Linked DNA regions of Homo sapiens. The protein of the gene in region 1 binds, or shares a complex with, the protein of each later gene. Each region holds a gene or a part of one and is shown in the gene's direction. Other genes may lie near its edges.

Region 1 (7,022 bases):
GGAGTGCCATGGATGGCTTTCAGGATGTCCTGAATCCTCTATAATTGTATACAAAATCGTGAGTTTTTAAAAACTGGGTTAGAGCTATTGGTTCCTCAGAGTCTCAGGCATCTTAGACCCCCAAAAAGGTTAAGGACTACTGACTTAACCAATTAGGTTTGAGTGGCATTGGCTTTGAAGAAAAGCAGAGGAAAGATATATTTTATAATTCTGGGCAACAAAAAAGTGGATGTGTGCCAGCATCTTAGAGTAGAATCCTCTTAAAAGGATAGCACTGCATATGAACTAGTAGGTTTTAACCAGTGCATATTTAGGCGAAGTAGCTCATTTTTCTGTTAGAATTCTTTTTTATTTGGGAATGGGCAAGCTTTTACAGCTTTTACCTTGCCAATGAATACCTGGAATTTAAAAAATCTTGTTAGGCATATTGCCCATAAAGTTTTTTTTCCTAGATCATATATTCAGTAAATATGTTTGTAGCTTTATTTCAATCCCCCAATTCATTGAGGGTTGAAACAATTTGAATGGTTTGAGTGTAGAAGCTAAGTTATTTCTGTAGAGGCTAAGGGCATTTATACCAAGATATGTTAGACTTGTGGTTCCTGCTAACCATTGCTGTAGACAATAGGAATTACTGTATATCCACATTTTAATTTTTAACATCATTCTGTCTTTGTTTGTTTGTTTTTGAGATGGAGTCTCATTCTCTTGCCCAGGCTAGAGTGTGGTGGTGCATCTCGGCTTACTGCAAACTCCGTCTCCTGGGTTCAAGCAGTTCTCCTGCCTCAGCTTCCCAAGTAGCTGGGATTACAGGTGCCCGCCTCCATGCCTGGCTGATTTTTGTATTTTTAGTAGAGACGGGGTTTTGCCATGTTGGCCAGGCTGGTCTGGAACTCCTGACCTCAAGTGATTCGCCCACCTCGGCCTCCCAAAGTGCTGGGATTACAGGTGTGAGCCACCACGCTCGGCCCATTCTGTCTTTATAGCATTATTTTTATAAAGTTAAGATAATGTGAAGTGAGCTTTTACTGAGTTATTCAGAAGACCCTACTTGGGAAGAAAAGAAAATCACATTCACTTGAACTTAATCCTACTTGCTTAAAAAGTTTTGACATCAAGATACTGAACTGTATCACGTTTTAGGACCATAAAATCCTAATAGTGGATGCGTTTAAATAATAGGTTAGCATACTTTATAAATGTTAGTAGAATAGGAAAGTCTTCCTGGTGTATAAACTAAACACTAGAAAAGTTGAATGGACCATAATAATTTATGTAATTATCAAATAGCTAAGTAATTTCAGCTTTTGTTACTTGCTTTTACTATCTCAGTTTTCTGTAATTAAAGTCTCTAAAGTATTCATTAAAATATTTGTAATAACATGGTTGAAGTAAAATAACTTGTAGGAAGTTTTTGATAATACCAAAACTTGATAGGCAGCTTCAATTTTTTTTCTTTATTTTCAGTAATCTATGCCAGCAATTATGACAATGTTAGCAGACCATGCAGCTCGTCAGCTGCTTGATTTCAGCCAAAAACTGGATATCAACTTATTAGATAATGTGGTGAATTGCTTATACCATGGAGAAGGAGCCCAGGTAAAGTAGCCAACCAAAACTTTATAACATTATGACAGTGTAACAGAGTTGTTGGGTTTAGAATAAAATTTTAAATTATCACCTTTAAAAAAGATATTCCATAGTTTGCATTAATTTGGAATTCTGTATTAACCATAATGAAAATTGGTTTGGAGAAAGAAATTGCATGTTTGACATGGTTAGAGTGGGTTGTTTTGGAATATTATACTTGTTTTGTCCTTAAGAGCCAAATGTTATTAAATACTTTGTAGGTATTAAAGGTTCTCTGTACTTTTATATATACTTAATATGTTTGGCACTAATACGATTCTTCTACTTTTAAAACATTTACAGAAGTACTTCACAGATATGTTTGTTTAAATAAAAACAGGAATACCAAGTATTTTTATGTTAGTTGAATTTTGTGCACTTTTCAAAGTGGTACTGTTAATGTAGGGAATTATCTTAAACATAAACCAAATTTTGATCAGTTTAAGATTTTTGGTTTTTTTGAACCCAACTAAAAGGTGAAACAGAAATGTGTGTACAATTTTAAATTGTATATGTCACAAGAAAAAAAACTTGATTTTTTACCTGTGGGGCCAAACTTTTTTTTGAGACAGTCTCGCTCTGTGGTCCAGGCAGGAGTGCAGTGGCGCTATCTCAGCTCACTGCAACCCCTGCCTCCTGGGTTCAAGCGATTGTCTTGCCTCAGCCTCCCTGGTAGCTGGGATTACAGGCACACGCCACCATGCCTGGCTAATTTTTGTATTTTTAGTAGAGATGGGGTTTCACCGTGTTGGCCAGGCTGGTCTTGGAACTCCTGACCTCAGGTGATCCACCTGACTCGGCCTCCCAAAGTGCTGGGATTACAGGCATGAGCCACCGCGTGCTGGCCCAAACATGTTTTTGAATGAGTAAAAAGTTTTGCAGTTGGGTCAGAAATCTTTTTTTTTTTTCAGATGGAGTCTTGCTCTGTCACCAGGCCTGAGTGCAGTGGCACAGTCTCGGCTCACTGCAACCTCTGCCTCCCAGGTTTTCAAGCAATTCACCTGCCTTAGCCTCCCGAGTAGCTGGGACTACAGACGCGCCACCATGCCCAGCTAATTTTTTGTATTTTAGTAGAGATGGGTTTCATCATATTGGCCAGGATGGTCTCCATCTCCTGACCTCGTGATCCGCCTGCCTTGGCCTCCCAAAGTGTGGAGATGACAGGCATGAGCCACCGCGCCTGGCCAGAAATCTTTTATGGTAGTTTTGTTGCCAGAACAGTAGATTTCTGGTTAGATAAATGTTCAGCTAGTAGATGGGAGGTTACTTATATTGTCAAGATATTTATATTTGCATAATTAAGAAACTGAGTGCCGGCCGGGCGCGGTGGCTCACGCCTGTAATCCCAGCACTTTGAGAGGCCGACGCCGGCGGATGACGAGGTCAGGAGATCGAGACCATCCTGGCTAACACGGTGAAACCCCGTCTCTACTAAAAACACAAAAAATTAGCCAGGCGTGGTGGCGGGCGCCTGTAGTCCCAGCTACTCGGGAGGCTGAGGCAGGAGAATGGCGTGAACCCGGGAGGCGGAGCTTGCAGTGAGCCGAGGTTGCGCCACTGCACTCCAGCCTGGGCAACGGCATGAGACTTCGTCTCAAAAATAAAAATAAATAAATAAAATAAAATAAAAAAACCTAAACCTGAGTGCCATTACACTTTCTGAAAATATATAAGGTGGATACAGTACTATCTTTTATAGTAGTCCAAAAAGCATCATGTATAAATGTTTCCATTCCCTTATGAAATGCAACAGTACTGCTTTTACTATAGTAGAAACTTGAAAAAGGTCCATGGAAACGCTAAAAGTAGAAAAAATTACTCTTGCAGTGATTCTGTAAGCTTGTTAGCCCAGGTTTATACTTTTAGGGCGTTTTGATCAGTATATTATCTCCTAAAGCATTCTTGAAAAAATTAACCATCCGTATTTATTATCCCTGTCATTTAGTTGTTACTCATGCTATACATTCAACATGAAGCTTTAAGCTTCATTTCTTCTAGCATGGATGCATAGAAAGCAGCTGCTTTTGGAGGAAGCTATGAAAGTAAGGTTGGGTTCAACTCTGAATGTAATATTGGAAGCACAGGTCTGTAGCCATTGGGAAAAAGGGCATTTAATTTTTTCCGCATAGATTCAGCTACTAATACTGTTTAATCTTCACACTAAACTAGTTCACTACATCTAAAGGTATGATAAATAAACCAACATAGAGCAGTGTTCTTCATGGCTTGTAACAGAATTAGTGGCAATTTTTGTAATTGAGAATATATTACAGCAATACTGCTTTTAATAATGTTTCATAGTATTAAGAAATTTAATGGTTTGTTTTAAAATTGACTTGTTAATAAAAAGTAGATTAAGAAAAGTGTTTCTAAATTTTTTTGTTTGTAAGGACAATAGGTTAACTTTCCCAAAGTAAAAGGATTTTGTCTGCAGTAGTTAATAGATCATGTGACAAAATCAGTTGCGTAGAAATAACTAGCAAACTTATTTTGTATTATAAATGAAGAAACAAGATTTAGAGCTTAAAGCTGGTTAAGGAGTCCTTTTGGTCTCTAAAAGTCCTATGTCGTTAGTTCAGTCTACTTTTCGTTTACCACCTCCTTGGGGGTCTTATTTCAAAGGAAAAGGAGTAGTAGTAGCAGCGAGCTGCTATAGTGGAAAACATGATTTTTAGTGTTAGACGTCTTAATTTGATTCTTGGAAGCTCTCTCTAGTCATTGCTTAAGTCCCATGTACAAATATGACCTGTCCTACAAGAGATTGGAGGGTTAGTTATGAGGTTTAAAAGCACCTATTACAGTGCTTGATAGGTAGAAGGCACTCAGCTTAAAGGGTACATTTAGCAGTATAATGAAAATGATTTAGCATATGTGATACTCATTGCTTAAAATTAAAAAAATTTTTTTTTTGCTACTCATAAAATATGCACTAATGACAAGAAAAATTTATTATGCTAATTAAGCTTTTAAAGTCAACTGGGAAAAAAAGCTGTAGGTAGGTTTTTTTTTTTTTAAAGGAATGTGTAACTTGGGGGAGGGGAAGAAATTATTTACAAGGGTGACTTTTAATCTGTAGACAGAACTTCTGCATACATGGTTAGTATAGTAGGATATTTAGCAGTGTAACATTAGGACTACCCTCTACCCTCTGTTATCAGCATTTTTCTATTTTTAGCCAAGTAGACAGCTAGAAAAAAGATGCGGGAAGAGTTGGATGTTTTCTCCAATATTGTGTTCTGTTAAAGATCTTGAACTCTATTGCTTAGCAACTAAAATGCTTTCACCATTCAGTTAGTAGTACAAGGGAGATGCTAGGTTTTCTCTCTTTAGTTTGCTTTTGTGTCTTTTTTTTTTAAACCCCTGCTGGGGTTTTAAGTTTATAAAGAACATTATGTAAGAATGGTGGGATTAGAATAAATCAGAATGCAAATACTAGAAGTAGCATCAGAGAGTAAAATTACAACTAACAGGAAAGAATATTATTTATGTAGCGATTGATGTGAGTGGTGATAGTGTGGGAAGTATTTGATTCTGTGTAGAATGCTTATCACTTCAAAGCATCTGACAAAATGGTAACTTGACCAAGTAACTTTTACTGTGTGAGGATCTTTGATACAACTTTTCCTCTAGTTAGATAAGGTTATCTAGCTAGATATTCTCAGGGAGAAGACCAAAACACTGCTAAAATGTGCTTTGGCCCTAGATAAGCCACATCATTATTCTTTCGGCCTTCTGTCATTTCTCATATGACACATTATGCCCATCAGTCCTTTAATGAAATCAAATAGAAATGTGTATGATTGTATTTTAAAGTATACACATTAACTCTTGTAACCACAGACTCACAATGGAAGCAGGCGTCTGATCTTTTCAGGCAACCACAGTGGTTCTGGTGGGTTTCTGGGTAGAGAACAACCATATAAGTTATTGAGTGTGTAGCAGTGTGTTTTCCTGATTGATGTATGGGATAGTCATGAATGTGGTATTGTATTTCCTACCTGAGGAAAAGGTCATGATTAAAATAAAGCATCAAAGCCAGGATAAGCATATAATTTCTTTCTTTTTTTTTTTTTTTGTAATGAGACAGAGTCTCACTCTGTAGCCCAGGCTGGAGTGCAGTGGTGTGATCTCAAATCACTGCAACCTCCGCCTTCCGGGTCCTGGTTCAAGCAATTCTCCTGCCTCAGCCTCCTGAGTAACTGGGATTACAAGTACGCCCCACCATGCCCAGCTAATTTTTGAATTTTTAGTAGAGACGGGGTTTCACCATGTTGGCCAGGCTGGTCTTGAACTTCTGACCTCGTGATCCACCCACCTTGGCCACCCAAAGTGTTGGGATTACAGGCGTGAGCCACGGTGCCCACCCGAGCATACGATTGTTTTAAAAAAGACTAGAATAAAAGCCAAGCTAAAGATTATAAGGTATCTTTGTCAGAAATGGTTGTGAGAGTGCTTCCTACCCTGTTTTTGATGCTTTATTGTTTATAACCATAGAATTAAACCCATGATAAAGTAAAGTATAAGAGAAAGATAACTGACAGATTTTAAAGTCATCAAACTTTTTTCTTGCTCTGTCACACAGGCTGGAGCACAATGGCTTGATCACAGCTCACTGCAGCCTTGACTTCCCAGGCTCAATCTTCCCACCTCAGCCTCCTGAGTAGCTGGGACCATAAGTGCGTGTCCCACCACACCTGGCTCATTATTAATTTTTCTTTGTTGCCCAGGCTGGTCTTGAACTCCTGGGATTACAGACATGAGCCACCACACCTGGTCCAAACTTTTTGCTTACAACTTTTAATAGAAATAGGTAAAAGAAATAGGAAGGATCTAATTGAGTTATAAAACAACCTTTAAAGATACAAAAGTGAAAAAGATTAAGCCATTGCTTTTTGTCAATAGAATTAAAAGCTGTTGGTAAAAATATTAATGTATGAAAAACTTATTGAAATGAAAAAACTATATATATATATATATATATATATATATATATATATATATATATATAAATAAAATGTCGACATGGCTGGATCTTAAAAACTGTCAAATGAAAAAAACTAATTGCAGGAAAGATTTTTTTTTTTTTTTTGAGAGGGAGTCTCACGCAGTCAACCCAGGTTGGAGTGCACTGGGGCAATCTTCCTGATTCTTGGGGAATCTTGGCTCACTGCAACCTCCGCTCCTGGATTCAAGCGATTCTCCTGCCTCAGCCTCCCGAGTAGCTGGGACTATAGGCGCACGCCACCATTCCCGGCTAGTTTTTGTATTTTTAGTAGAGATGGGGTTTCGCCATATTGGTCAGGATGGTCTTGAACTCCTGACCTTGTGATCTGCTCACCTCGGCCTCCCATAGTGCCAGGATTACAGGCGTAAGCCACCGTGCCCAGCCTAAA
Region 2 (7,022 bases), about 47 Mb from region 1:
CCCAGGAACAAATGTAGCCATGGCGTCAAATCAGGCTGTCAGAATTGTAAAAGAACCCACAAGTCATGATAACAAGGATATTTGCAAATCTGATGCTGGAAACCTGAATTTTGAATTTCAGGTTGCAAAGAAAGAAGGGTCTTGGTGGCATTGTAACAGCTGCTCATTAAAGAATGCTTCAACTGCTAAGAAATGTGTATCATGCCAAAATCTAAACCCAAGCAATAAAGAGCTCGTTGGCCCACCATTAGCTGAAACTGTTTTTACTCCTAAAACCAGCCCAGAGAATGTTCAAGATCGATTTGCATTGGTGACTCCAAAGAAAGAAGGTCACTGGGATTGTAGTATTTGTTTAGTAAGAAATGAACCTACTGTATCTAGGTGCATTGCGTGTCAGAATACAAAATCTGCTAACAAAAGTGGATCTTCATTTGTTCATCAAGCTTCATTTAAATTTGGCCAGGGAGATCTTCCTAAACCTATTAACAGTGATTTCAGATCTGTTTTTTCTACAAAGGAAGGACAGTGGGATTGCAGTGCATGTTTGGTACAAAATGAGGGGAGCTCTACAAAATGTGCTGCTTGTCAGAATCCGAGAAAACAGAGTCTACCTGCTACTTCTATTCCAACACCTGCCTCTTTTAAGTTTGGTACTTCAGAGACAAGTAAAACTCTAAAAAGTGGATTTGAAGACATGTTTGCTAAGAAGGAAGGACAGTGGGATTGCAGTTCATGCTTAGTGCGAAATGAAGCAAATGCTACAAGATGTGTTGCTTGTCAGAATCCGGATAAACCAAGTCCATCTACTTCTGTTCCAGCTCCTGCCTCTTTTAAGTTTGGTACTTCAGAGACAAGCAAGGCTCCAAAGAGCGGATTTGAGGGAATGTTCACTAAGAAGGAGGGACAGTGGGATTGCAGTGTGTGCTTAGTAAGAAATGAAGCCAGTGCTACCAAATGTATTGCTTGTCAGAATCCAGGTAAACAAAATCAAACTACTTCTGCAGTTTCAACACCTGCCTCTTCAGAGACAAGCAAGGCTCCAAAGAGCGGATTTGAGGGAATGTTCACTAAGAAGGAGGGACAGTGGGATTGCAGTGTGTGCTTAGTAAGAAATGAAGCCAGTGCTACCAAATGTATTGCTTGTCAGAATCCAGGTAAACAAAATCAAACTACTTCTGCAGTTTCAACACCTGCCTCTTCAGAGACAAGCAAGGCTCCAAAGAGCGGATTTGAGGGAATGTTCACTAAGAAGGAAGGACAGTGGGATTGCAGTGTGTGCTTAGTAAGAAATGAAGCCAGTGCTACCAAATGTATTGCTTGTCAGTGTCCAAGTAAACAAAATCAAACAACTGCAATTTCAACACCTGCCTCTTCGGAGATAAGCAAGGCTCCAAAGAGTGGATTTGAAGGAATGTTCATCAGGAAAGGACAGTGGGATTGTAGTGTTTGCTGTGTACAAAATGAGAGTTCTTCCTTAAAATGTGTGGCTTGTGATGCCTCTAAACCAACTCATAAACCTATTGCAGAAGCTCCTTCAGCTTTCACACTGGGCTCAGAAATGAAGTTGCATGACTCTTCTGGAAGTCAGGTGGGAACAGGATTTAAAAGTAATTTCTCAGAAAAAGCTTCTAAGTTTGGCAATACAGAGCAAGGATTCAAATTTGGGCATGTGGATCAAGAAAATTCACCTTCATTTATGTTTCAGGGTTCTTCTAATACAGAATTTAAGTCAACCAAAGAAGGATTTTCCATCCCTGTGTCTGCTGATGGATTTAAATTTGGCATTTCGGAACCAGGAAATCAAGAAAAGAAAAGTGAAAAGCCTCTTGAAAATGGTACTGGCTTCCAGGCTCAGGATATTAGTGGCCAGAAGAATGGCCGTGGTGTGATTTTTGGCCAAACAAGTAGCACTTTTACATTTGCAGATCTTGCAAAATCAACTTCAGGAGAAGGATTTCAGTTTGGCAAAAAAGACCCCAATTTCAAGGGATTTTCAGGTGCTGGAGAAAAATTATTCTCATCACAATACGGTAAAATGGCCAATAAAGCAAACACTTCCGGTGACTTTGAGAAAGATGATGATGCCTATAAGACTGAGGACAGCGATGACATCCATTTTGAACCAGTAGTTCAAATGCCCGAAAAAGTAGAACTTGTAACAGGAGAAGAAGATGAAAAAGTTCTGTATTCACAGCGGGTAAAACTATTTAGATTTGATGCTGAGGTAAGTCAGTGGAAAGAAAGGGGCTTGGGGAACTTAAAAATTCTCAAAAACGAGGTCAATGGCAAACTAAGAATGCTGATGCGAAGAGAACAAGTACTAAAAGTGTGTGCTAATCATTGGATAACGACTACGATGAACCTGAAGCCTCTCTCTGGATCAGATAGAGCATGGATGTGGTTAGCCAGTGATTTCTCTGATGGTGATGCCAAACTAGAGCAGTTGGCAGCAAAATTTAAAACACCAGAGCTGGCTGAAGAATTCAAGCAGAAATTTGAGGAATGCCAGCGGCTTCTGTTAGACATACCACTTCAAACTCCCCATAAACTTGTAGATACTGGCAGAGCTGCCAAGTTAATACAGAGAGCTGAAGAAATGAAGAGTGGACTGAAAGATTTCAAAACATTTTTGACAAATGATCAAACAAAAGTCACTGAGGAAGAAAATAAGGGTTCAGGTACAGGTGCGGCCGGTGCCTCAGACACAACAATAAAACCCAATCCTGAAAACACTGGGCCCACATTAGAATGGGATAACTATGATTTAAGGGAAGATGCTTTGGATGATAGTGTCAGTAGTAGCTCAGTACATGCTTCTCCATTGGCAAGTAGCCCTGTGAGAAAAAATCTTTTCCGTTTTGGTGAGTCAACAACAGGATTTAACTTCAGTTTTAAATCTGCTTTGAGTCCATCTAAGTCTCCTGCCAAGTTGAATCAGAGTGGGACTTCAGTTGGCACTGATGAAGAATCTGATGTTACTCAAGAAGAAGAGAGAGATGGACAGTACTTTGAACCTGTTGTTCCTTTACCTGATCTAGTTGAAGTATCCAGTGGTGAGGAAAATGAACAAGTTGTTTTTAGTCACAGGGCAAAACTCTACAGATATGATAAAGATGTTGGTCAATGGAAAGAAAGGGGCATTGGTGATATAAAGATTTTACAGAATTATGATAATAAGCAAGTTCGTATAGTGATGAGAAGGGACCAAGTATTAAAACTTTGTGCCAATCACAGAATAACTCCAGACATGACTTTGCAAAATATGAAAGGGACAGAAAGAGTATGGTTGTGGACTGCATGTGATTTTGCAGATGGAGAAAGAAAAGTAGAGCATTTAGCTGTTCGTTTTAAACTACAGGATGTTGCAGACTCGTTTAAGAAAATTTTTGATGAAGCAAAAACAGCCCAGGAAAAAGATTCTTTGATAACACCTCATGTTTCTCGGTCAAGCACTCCCAGAGAGTCACCATGTGGCAAAATTGCTGTAGCTGTATTAGAAGAAACCACAAGAGAGAGGACAGATGTTATTCAGGGTGATGATGTAGCAGATGCAACTTCAGAAGTTGAAGTGTCTAGCACATCTGAAACAACACCAAAAGCAGTGGTTTCTCCTCCAAAGTTTGTATTTGGTTCAGAGTCTGTTAAAAGCATTTTTAGTAGTGAAAAATCAAAACCATTTGCATTCGGCAACAGTTCAGCCACTGGGTCTTTGTTTGGATTTAGTTTTAATGCACCTTTGAAAAGTAACAATAGTGAAACTAGTTCAGTAGCCCAGAGTGGATCTGAAAGCAAAGTGGAACCTAAAAAATGTGAACTGTCAAAGAACTCTGATATCGAACAGTCTTCAGATAGCAAAGTCAAAAATCTCTTTGCTTCCTTTCCAACGGAAGAATCTTCAATCAACTACACATTTAAAACACCAGAAAAGGGTAAGTACTTTGTTGTTAAAGTTAAGCACAATTTTTCTTTCTTTTAATGTTTAGCTTGATGCAGACTCTTTGTAGGATACTAATGTTGGGATATAAATGATGCTTTGTGAACACCCCCAAAATATTTGAGCAATTTTTTTTCTCCCTTAATAAGTTCACGGTGAGGTTTCAAAGAGCAAGAGAACTTAGTTTAAGACATTTCAGTAACTGGAAGATACTTTTATCATGCTAGGGCAGAGCAAAAGAACTCGGTACGGTATACGGACTCATGCTTGAATCATGCACATTAACGTGAGTCTTTTTTTAAAGTGTTCATTTTCATTTGTTCAGTTTCTTTTGTCACTCAGAAAACATGATATTGAGGCTGGGCACGGTGGCTCACTCCTAGAATGCCAGCACTTTGGGAGGTTGAGGTGGGCAGATCACTTGAGCTCAAGAGTTCGAGACCAGCCTGGCCAGCATGGTGAAACCCTGTTTCTACTGAAAATACAAAAATGAGCCGGGCGTCGTGGTGCGTGCCTATAATTAGCAGCTACTTAGGAGGCTGAGGCAGGAGGATCACTTGAGCACAGGAGATGGAGGTAGCAGTGAGCTGAAATCATGCCACTGCACTCCAGCCTGACTGAGTGACTGAGACTTTGTCTCCAAAAAAAAAAAAACAACGTGATATTGAGATGTTCTCATTTTATATGTTGTATGTCAGTCTTGCTCATGTATTAAATGAGCAAAGAATGAAACTACAGGGATAAATGAATATGTAAGACAATCAGATTGGTGGTATAAATTGAGGGATTCTGGCTTTTTATGTTTTAAAAGCATATTCATTTTGTTTCCTAAAATGTTAAAAAACGAAATATTCTTTATTTTCTAGGATTTAATTTTAGCCTTTTTAAATCTAATCCCATGGCCTTTTGGACTAGCACCCCTTCCTCACAGCCTGAGAGCAAAGGTATAGAACTAGCATTCTCAGTATGAGATAACAGCAGTTTTTAGCAGCTGGGTAGCCCTTAGCAAAGTATTAATAACTGTGGCTGTATGAAATGAAGTACTTACCACTACAACATGCATGTTAAAGAATGCCAGTTTAAGCAAAGTACCTTTTGACTGGTGGCATGACACCCTTGTTGGTTTGTTTTTTAAAATGTACTGGGATGCTGATTTGTAATGTACTTCATTGCTCTGCTATTTCAGGTCTGCTCAATGAAGACCTATGTTTTATCTAATGTTTATGTTTAGCCACTAACGTCTGCCAGTATTCAAATGTAGTGGCAACGGCATGTATACAATATGGAAGAGTGTCCCTGTAGGGCTGTTCTTTTGTGCATGGTTTAGAAAAATGTTGTATTTGAAAATGGACCCCGTTTTTAACAGCCAGCATTCTACAGCTTGCATATTATATATGTTGCACCGATCAATTTTAGAAGTGTGGCTACTAGAGTGGAACAAGAAGTGGGATCTGTTGAAGGCCTTCAAGAACAGGTTAGGGAAGTGAAATCTCACCCTTAGTGACCAGTAACACATCTTAGCCATGCCAAACAAGTACAATGATAAAGTAGCAATCTCTGATTTTTTTTTTTAAGTATACCAGTTTTATTACTAGCTAAGGTAGCTCTTAATCTTTTATTTTTAAAGATACGGTCTTTGAGAAATGTGAAAAGTGTTAACTTAAAAGTGGATGTATACTTGCGTACAGTTTCTGTGAGCTCTAGGTTAGGAATCCCTGACCTAAGAATGAATGTGCCTATATACTACTGTAGAACATAGAGCCTTATTTTGTTTTGAATCTGATAATGTCATTGTCCCAAGGGACCTTAGAAATGAAGACTTTAGACATGAGTAAACTGAGGCCAAGAGAGGCTATCTGATTTACCCAAGGTGTCTTTACTGAGTAATAGCAGAAGTGGAACAAGAATCTGTATCTTACGGTGTACTGTTATTTCTCCTAGCTAGAAAATGATACTAAGTTTTTGTTTATAATGAAGGAGAGGGACAAATTTAACATTGTAAAAGGAAGGGCACTGGTTCTGCAGAGCAGTGTCATCCAGTAGAAATAAAATATAACCTGTGTATGTAATTTAAAATTGTCATTTGGTGCAATGGCTTGTGCCTATAATCCCAGTTACTTGGGAGGCTGAGGCAGAGGGATCACTTGAGCCCACAAGTTCCAGGCTTTAGTGAACTGTGATCACATCACTGCACTCCAGCTCTGGGTGACAAAGCAAGACTGCATCTCAAATAAATAAATAAATAAATAAATTTTCTAGTAGCCATATTAAAAAGAATAAAAAGAAACAGTTAAAAAGGGAAACAGATGAAAGTAACTTTATTGATAGATTTGATTTAACTTATGTCCAAAATATCATTTTAACTTCTAATTAATATAAAAATTAATGATATTTTACATTATTGTTTTTCACCAAGTCTTCAAAATCCAGTGTGTGTGTTTACACTTACTGTTAGCACGTCTTGATTTGGACTAGCCACCTTGTGAGGTTTTAATAGAATGTGGCTAGGCTACCATATTGGACACCATAGCTCTCAGAATGTTTCCCTATCACTAGTTGGTATACATGGCATGCTTCATGACTGGCTTGCTTTATTAAACTCCTTTAGCCAGAAGTTCAGAACAGGTTGCATATAGAAGTTTTTTCTCTTTCTAATTTTTTGCCCTTTGCATTGATGGTGGCTGGGGATGGGTTGTTTTTAGCCATATGAATGGTCTTAGATTTTATAGTGTTAGCTACCTATAGAGTCACAGTTGTTATTTAATTTTACTTAGTATCATGCTTGAACATAGGCAAACTAGATGCAACTCTAGTCACCTTCCATTCTTGGCAATTGTTAACTTTCCTTACAGAAACTAATCACAGTTGGCTTTGGATTAGTTTCATATGTATAGTAATACTTGCCTATGTTTTAAGATTTTTTTCAATTGCTGCAAATGCATGGATATTTTGGTAAACTATTGTATGCTAAGTATAGTTAGGCAACACTTTAAAATTTTTAACCTTTATAAATTCTAGAAATTTATAGTAATTCTTTTCAATGACTATTAAGTAAACACAAATTTTTTTTTGTTTTCTTTGGTTTTAA
Region 3 (7,813 bases), on another chromosome or scaffold:
TACTCCTCCTGATAGTGTATTTGCATTTAAATGAGTCCTTTCTGGAAGGACTCCCTTAACCCAAAGGAGTGTTTCTAAATGCTGACAGCTCCCAGCACACAGGGCCTCTGGCTCTGGTTTCACATTTTCCCTTGCTGAGACTCATGATATCACTAGGCCATTTGATCTCTAATTTGAGAATATCAGAAAGGAAGCATTGCAGACCTCAAAGTCAAGATCCAAAGTTTAGGGTTTTTTAAAAAAAAATTTGTGCAATAACAAGTCATAGGTTAAAAAAAATTACATATTGCTGTATGTAAAGTTCCAAGAAGACAGATTCAAACCCTATATGTTGACATAAGACATTTCCCAATATCTTTCCCCTTTTCTTTCTGGTTTCCCTATGCCTCTTACCGTGCTGGAGTATCAGAAGCAGTTCAATCCTGCCATTTAATGTCTTTGACTGTTGTCTTTAACACCATCAACACACTGATTCCTTTCCATGAATAAAAAGTACCTGATAAGAATACTTTGATAGATGAATGTATCTATATTATCACAAGAAACTATCTTCAGTGAGTCTGGCTTCGCAGATGGAAACTACACTGGGGGGTCAAGAAAACATGTTCTGGGACTGTCCCAAGTCGCCACAGTTGCATCCCTACTGCCTCAGGCAACTTGAAGGAAAAGATCAAACATCTTTCACTCTTGAGACAATTGTTGTCTTCATCTCAGAAACAAGACAAAGTCAGGCTGTGAGTGGTGGGGATCCAAGCCCAAGTCTGTTCAACTACAAAATCTCTAACCTTCACAGTCATCTCAACCTTCTGGTTCTCTTCACCTTCTCATCCTCCTGCCTCTTTACTTTATAAGGACTTTTATCTTCAGCATGAGATACCTAGCAAATCCTTCAACTAAATGATAAATTATGAAGGCTGAACATGTTCTCTCATTCAAGGTATTTAGAACTTGCAAAGGAGAAAGGGGACAGAAGCCTGCCCAAGTATGCAAGGATAACACTGACAGAGTATCAGCTCCCTGAAGCTCTGGAGTGGCAATTTCATGCCATCTCATTATAGCCTCACAGTAACAGTCTACAGTTTGTATTCTAAGTTTTGCCATGGCTCCCTTTGACAATCTGAAGCAACCTACATAACTCTTCTTAAAATGATGCTTTTCAATGCATAAAATATAATACGTAGAATTGGAAAGGAAACTACGAAGTTTAAAATACTGTTATCAAAATATTTAAAAACAAAATTCATGATATACAAAGGTATGGGCATTTAAACTCATTAAACACAGTATAGGAGAGTTATATATATTTACTTAAAAATTGTGATATTGTGGGAAAGGGTTAACAATTTTTATACTGCTTTACATGTACACTGAAATTGAACAATTATAACAGTGAATGATGGGAGCCATGATTCTCACTATTGGAATAGGAATTTACAGACAAGCAAAGGGAGGAGGCTAGAATGATCTATGTGTTAAAGGATTAAAGTTGGAAACATAAGTATGTGCTCATATTTAGCTTAATACAGACACAGAATGGTCACATATAGAAATACTTATGTATATATGCATGGGTAAGTATACACATATATTTCTTCACTGTCTTAGTTGAAAGGCCTAAACAAAATGACCTGCCAATAATGACTGTGTCTGGGACCCAGATCTTGATTTGTATTACCATTCTCCCATAAAAGGAACAAGGGCTCCATGAAGAAATGGCTGATTCTTGGAATGAAGAAGGAAGTATACAAGTTGAGACTGGAGGAACTTATAATACCATAAAGTAAGGGATTGTTAACAGCCCTGCTGCTCCTGCCATACACACACACACGCACACTCACACATCAAAGGGGGTATGTCAAAGGAGCACAGGAACCTACTGAAAGAGCTTCCAATGGGCAAAACTGGAACAAATTGAACAACAAAATAAAGTAGTAATTGATTATTACCAAAGGCATAAAATATAATACATCTCCATAAGTCTATAATATTGATATCAATAAGTAATTGAATACTTGGTAGAGAATAGACAGCTCTCCTGTACAGAATTCCATATACTTTATGTACACACTCTGCCCTCAGGGAGGTAGAGCCAAAGTCCCACTCCTTAGGTTTGGGTTTCATGTAGTTACTTCCTACAAGTACAGTATGGAAGGGATGGGCAATAACGTTACAGTAGAGAAACCTGACAAACACTGCCTCAGCCAGACAATCAAGGTCAACACATCACCAGTCATAAATCACATCGGTACTATAGCACCTTGATATGATGTGAGGAAAAGGGACTTTACCTCTTTCTTTCTCCTGCCAATAGTTCGCAACTCCAGTCTTATCATAAGAAAAGCATCAGACAAATTGCAACAGTGAGGCCTTCCAGCAAATACTTGACCACTACTCCTCAAAACTGTCAAGGTCATCAAAAACAAGAAAAACTATCACAGCTAAGAGGAGCTTAAGGGGACATGACAACTAAATTTAGTGTGGTATCCTGGATGGATGCCTGGAACAGATTTAAGGATATTAGGTAAAAACCAGGGAAACTTAAATGTAGTTAGACTTTATTTATAGTTAGTAATAATGTATCAGTATACATTCATTGATTGTAACCCAATGATATGGTTCAGATTTGTGTCCCTACCCAAATCTCATGTCAAATTGTAATCCCCAATTTTGGAGGAGGGGCCTAGTGGGAGGTGACTTGATCATGGGGGAGGACTTCCCCCTTGGCTTTCTGGTGGTAGTGAGTTCTCATGACATCTGGTTGTTTAAAAGTGTGTAGCACCTCCCCCTTCTCTTTCTCCTGCTCCAGCCATGTAGGCCCTGCCTGCTTCCCCTTTGCCTTCCACCATGATTATAGGTTTCCTGAGACCTCCCCAATCATGCTTCCTGTACAGCCTACAGAACCACCAGCCCTTCTTTATAAATTACCCAATCTCAGGTAGTTCTTTATAGCAATGCCAGAATTACACCAAGGTACCTTACTATTGTATGATGTCAATAGGAGACACTGGGAATGGGATATATGGGAACACCCTGTATTATTTCTTCAATTTTTCTGGACACCAAAGCTGAAAAATATAGTCTATTAAATAAAAAAAGTAGTGATGATTTGATTATAACATCAGTGTAGTGATAGAGATATCTATAAAAACAGCAATAAGGAATTAGCTGTTGTTTCTATTGGAAACAAAGTCCCAGGTACTCCTAACATTCTTGTGGTTTGTTGCCTACATTATGTTTAAAGGACATGCTAAATGCTAAATTTCAGTTAGAAGTTAGTGAAACTAAAAATGAGATTTTTCCCATTATACTTAATCTGTATAAAAGGAGTATATGAATAGAATTCCATTTATACAGATTAAGAATCTCCTGCTCTATGGTAATATTAACGGGCTAATGTTATGAAAGTGAGTCTCAGAGCGATGAATTAAGCTGTTCTAGCTTTCAAAGAGCATATATTCTATGACCAAGAATTCTAACTAAGTTTTGTTGGAAAGCTGTTGGCTACATTATCACCTAACTTTGGGACTGATAGATGGATGGAAACATCTCATTTAGCAAAGGTGCTTCCCTGGCCTTGTGCAATTGCACTGTTTAGGTTGCTGGACAAATCCATAGTGTAAAGCTGGCCTGTATCAAGTGACGGTCAATTCAAACAGCAAGGCAAGTTAAAAGAGGGAACTCCATTCCACAGAACCCTAGTGTCAAGGAACCTCCCGACTGGAAAATGACTCAACAGCTAGGCGGAAACCCTGGCTCAGCTACAAAGAGAGCAAATTTAGTCCCATTTTTCCTTAAACATTCAACCCTCAAACCTGAAGAGATTTGGGAAAGAAGCAAAACGGGAGGGTGGGGGAGAGAGAACAGTCTTGTTAACAGCTAGTGTTAATTTAAAAAGAGAAGGAAAGGGCTTATATGAATACATGCTTATTTCATTCCCAAAGCAAATTTTCATAAATCCTTAGGGAAAGAGAGATAGTCATTTGCTAATGTAGACTCTGCTTTTTGATTCCCAAATGTTACAGCTGTCACCACAACAGTTTGCCCAATTATGTGGCAGGGAGGGGAGGGGGTCCAGAGCAAAGGAAGTAGGAGGAAGAGATGTTAGAGGGAACATCTGTGCACAAGTGCACCATAAACACAACAAAATCATGGGGCCACCCCACTGTTTCTTTGAGCGCTTTCTCTGGTTGGCCCCACTTCTCCAGTCTTTTAGGAGATTCCCGTTCTATTACGTAGGTGAGAGGGCGAAAGGTTCTAGCTTTCAAAATTGTGAGTGGTTTGGCTGTGTGCATACGTGTGTGTGCGCGCGTGTGTGCGTGTGTGTGTGTGTTTGCGTGTGTGTCTGTTGGCGGGGGCGGGGGTGATGGAGAGAGCTATGAAGGGCTTAGAAAGCTTCATTACCAATTTAAAATGTTTTTGTAGTGCTTGAATGTTTATCTTAAAAGACAATTCCTGCTCTCAAATTCAGCCAAATGAACAATGCTGATAAGGAAGATGAAGAGGGTGGGAAACCCACAGGGGCAAATGGAACAGTCCATGCAGCCGGGGTGACGGGGGAGCGCTCGGAGGAAGGACGCTATGCAGAGAAAGCCCCCCTGGCTCTTCTCTCTCAATCCATAATCCAGCGATGCTGCAGCTGTAAAAGCATTAATAGAAAATCAATCCACAACCTCGCGGGGCAGCGATCGTCGAGCGCCGTTTCCAGGCTGCCTTCCCTGGGGTCGGGAGCGGCCCCGCTCCCCCCGTGGCTGGCGCGGAATGTGGTGATCCGTCCCGGGGCGGGGATGACTTCATGCAGCCGGAGCTCCGCGGCGGGAGCGGAGGCTGCTGCTGGCAGGTGGGGCGCGGGCCGGCGCGAGCTGACCGAGCACTCGGCGGGCGCGGCGGGACTGCGGCCCGTGGCGGCGTGCGCGGGGACCTGCGCTGACTAGGTCCGGGGAAGGTAAGCAGCCCGGCACCGGTGCGCCCTGGCCGCACTGCGTGGAGCTTTCCGCTTGGTTAATAATGGGGTTTGCAGCACGGAGGGAAGAAGGGGAGAACCCCGCTGCATTCTGCAATGAGAAAAGGAGCAACAACTAGGATGGAAATGTTGGGCGGCCAAGTGCAGAGGTTGGAGGAGCAGTGTTACTGGGCAAACAAAGAAGGCGTTCTTGCCTCTATACTCTTTTGAACGTGATCTACCATTTCAGTGCCAGATTCGCGTAGACAGTGAAGAGGACTCAAAATTTAAAATAATTTGAGTTACTCTTTTGCTTTCTGTGCCTTTTACCTTCGCTTGAGTATTTTGAGGATTTGGAGCAGTAGGTCCCTGGCAGCAGCCTGAGGTAATCAGAAATCGTCCCTCTTCCTGTAGTCCTTGGTCCTCTCCCTTTCCAGTTATCAGAATGGGTCTGTGCCCCTCTCAATGGCAAAACACCTGCTTCAAGACTGAACCTTTAGAAAGAGCCTCTATCTGGAGGGGAAACTTCTCTTATCTCCTGGAGTTCAGCTTGGGTTGAGCAGCACTTGACATCGCTTCTTCCTTCAATTGCCATTTTCTCTGTCAATCATTTCATTGATCTTTTTCGGAGATGCTGTGCCCATTCACAGACCAACTCTCGTCAGCTCTTATCCACCACCTGGGTTCCATGACTGATTTTGTCAAGGTCCCAAAAAGGGCATTGCCTCACACAGATTTCTTATTCGGTATTCTCCCTGTATACTGTTACCTGTGTCCTTCCCCCAAATGCATGGAATGAAATATCCTGCTTGTGGCCCTGTACCAACATGTTATCCCATTAACTCCCTTCGCTGTAGTCACTGTGGCTACTTGAAAGCTAGAGAGGACAGATAGAATCTACTGGAGTGTGAGGGATGTTCCCTATGCATAGGCATAGGTAGAAGTAAAAATGTGAATGCCAGTCCATCCAGTTTTTCTTGAAGCAATTTTAGTCCAGTTGGATTTTGAGACAGCTAGCTGTTAAGATTTGGGACAAATCCTTTCCAAAAGGCAGAGGAGTCCGTTTGCCTCTAGGATTCCTCAAGAACCTCAAAAGAGTTTCCAGTGAGGTTTTCCTCGTAGGCAGTCAGAAAGCCAATGGAGCTGCCCAATCTAAGCCTCTGGTTGAGTATCCTCTAGTTTGTCTTGCCATTTGCAGGTTCCTATCCCTCGTCCTAGGATTTTCCCCACAGACCCCTTGCTACTGAGCCCAAGTGCCTATCCTTGTTGCCACCTAGAGATGTACATTTGAATAATATGCTGTGAAATGGTTAAGATGGCTGTTATGGGGATTGCAAACGTGCCACTTCACCAACAGAGAACAGTTGCAATAAGCCAGATTGTGGGGTATCTGTGTGCCAATGTTCTATTTAAAGGAAGATCTGTTATCTTTAAACTTAAAATTACAGAGACTGTCTGACTCAACAGCCATGCAATTTTATTTTAGTAAATTAAATTAGAAGATCAATGAAAAAGAGGGGCAGAGTTGGTAGCTTAAAATTTTACCTCTTTCTTTCCTCTTCAAATATTATTTTTAAGCAAAGACACTAGTATGGAAAATCGTGTTAATCATATTATATATCATTATTGCCTTTCTATTACAAATTTCGTTTTTACAAAATGCACTTTAGAAAGATTTGAATTTGTTTCTTTGTCTCCATCTTCAGTATATGAGGCATAGGGTGAGGGTGTAGGGGGTGGGCAAAGCCCACTACTGAGTGATCCACTCCAGGAACTGCCCCTTGGGGTCTTAATAACCTTATGTTCCTTTTTTGTTGTTGTTATTATGTGTTAAACAGGGTTTTGGTTTGAAATATTAACTTCTTGAGATTCTAGAATTTTTACTCAGTCACATTAACTATGAGGTAACAAAGAACAAGATCAACAACAAACCCTGTATTCTACCACCTTTTTTCTACTATTAAAATACTTAACCATATACATCATTATTCTGAATAATACTAATATAGAATAATAATGAATTTTAATATAGTTATTCTAAATAACCTAAGGTATATGAAATACAGATTAGTACAATTGATCTTAGAAATACAATGCAGTTTCTGTAATGTTGACAGTCACCTTTCTGTTGAAGAGCAAGTGCGTGAGAATATCCTAATGATGGTTAGAAATTCGAAGTGTCTATCATTTAGTTTCTGAAGAAACTAAACTCTTTGGCAAGAAATAGGTTCAGGATTAGGAGACTGGTGCTGCCTAAGGTGGAATAATACTTGCTAGTGATTTTGCAGGTGAGTTGAACCCACTAAGTTATGGACTGGAGTTGGAGAAATCTTGTTGAGAAGAAAGAAAACAAGTTAGAAAATTTAATTTTCATTTTAGTACAACTGAGGAAGATAATCAAACTGAAGGGATTCCTGAATTTGGACTTTGTTGTGTTTAAACAAGTTTGAGGAAAGTTTCTAAATTTAGAAGGCTAAGCAGAAATATATGTATGATTTTATGTCTGAAACTGATTTATGACTTTATATCCTTTCCTTAAAATGTTTCCTAGGGAGAGGAAAAACTAATTGGCTGGTGTTCAGAATTGAAAGAGGAATGAAAAATGGAAGGACGTGCATGATTAGATGCTAAATGATTAGATACTAAATGAACTGCAGGCACTTTTGTGTTTGACAAGATAGAACTGAAGTCAGTCTACTGCTCTCCAATTGTGTAAAAAAAAAAAAAAAAGTTTTGTCTGCTAGACAGTGTTACCAGATATTTAGAGAGTAAAAATTTAGGAGTTAAAGTTGCCCTCTTCTAACAAAATATCTTTTTCTGGTGCTGCATTACTGCCATTAACTACAATTGAAATAGCCTTAAGATTTGAGGCTG

The links. Proteins that work in one complex are often made in the same cells at the same time.
Region 2: the proteins of XPO1 (region 1) and RANBP2 are in contact, whole or in part, in a cryo-EM structure (PDB 9B62), measured with the Homo sapiens proteins. Residues at the interface, in NP_003391.1 of Homo sapiens: Trp60, Val63, Asp64, Leu83, Asn97, Gln98, Gly101, Ile102, Lys104, Tyr105, Val107, Gly108, Ile110, Ile111, Leu134, Phe149, Asp152, Ile153, Gly155, Ala156, Ser157, Arg158, Thr159, Ser160, Glu161, Leu163, Cys164, Asn167, Leu208, Phe211; in NP_006258.3 of Homo sapiens: Val2508 (codon at 3,602), Val2509 (codon at 3,605), Ser2510 (codon at 3,608), Pro2511 (codon at 3,611), Pro2512 (codon at 3,614), Lys2513 (codon at 3,617), Phe2514 (codon at 3,620), Val2515 (codon at 3,623), Phe2516 (codon at 3,626), Gly2841, Phe2842, Gly2843, Ser2845, Thr2846, Gly2847, Leu2848, Ser2849, Phe2850, Ala2851, Leu2853, Ala2854, Asn2857, Ser2858, Gly2859, Asp2860, Phe2861, Ala2862, Phe2863, Gly2864, Ser2865.
Region 3: the proteins of XPO1 (region 1) and PKIA are in contact, whole or in part, in an NMR structure (PDB 2L1L), measured with the Homo sapiens proteins. Residues at the interface, in NP_003391.1 of Homo sapiens: Val518, Lys522, Leu525, Cys528, Glu529, Lys534, Lys537, Ala538, Ala541, Ile544, Phe554, His558, Lys560, Phe561, Thr564, Lys568, Phe572, Glu575, Thr576, Val580; in NP_006814.1 of Homo sapiens: Asn36, Leu38, Ala39, Lys41, Leu42, Ala43, Gly44, Leu45, Asp46, Ile47, Asn48, Glu51.

Annotation. Positions count from the first base shown.
Region 1 is NC_000002.12:61,528,349-61,535,370, reverse strand, and holds part of XPO1 (exportin-1), read left to right. Parts: intron 1-692; exon of another isoform or gene 693-948; intron 949-1,467; 5' UTR 1,468-1,473; coding exon 1,474-1,599; intron 1,600-7,022. UniProt on the Homo sapiens protein: Mediates the nuclear export of cellular proteins (cargos) bearing a leucine-rich nuclear export signal (NES) and of RNAs.
Region 2 is NC_000002.12:108,764,460-108,771,481, forward strand, and holds part of RANBP2 (E3 SUMO-protein ligase RanBP2), read left to right. Parts: coding exon 1-3,929; intron 3,930-4,800; coding exon of another isoform or gene 4,801-4,878; intron 4,879-7,022. UniProt on the Homo sapiens protein: E3 SUMO-protein ligase which facilitates SUMO1 and SUMO2 conjugation by UBE2I. Involved in transport factor (Ran-GTP, karyopherin)-mediated protein import via the F-G repeat-containing domain which acts as a docking site for substrates.
Region 3 is NC_000008.11:78,511,527-78,519,339, forward strand, and holds the start of PKIA (cAMP-dependent protein kinase inhibitor alpha), read left to right. Parts: upstream 1-4,813; 5' UTR 4,814-4,942; intron 4,943-7,813. UniProt on the Homo sapiens protein: Extremely potent competitive inhibitor of cAMP-dependent protein kinase activity, this protein interacts with the catalytic subunit of the enzyme after the cAMP-induced dissociation of its regulatory chains.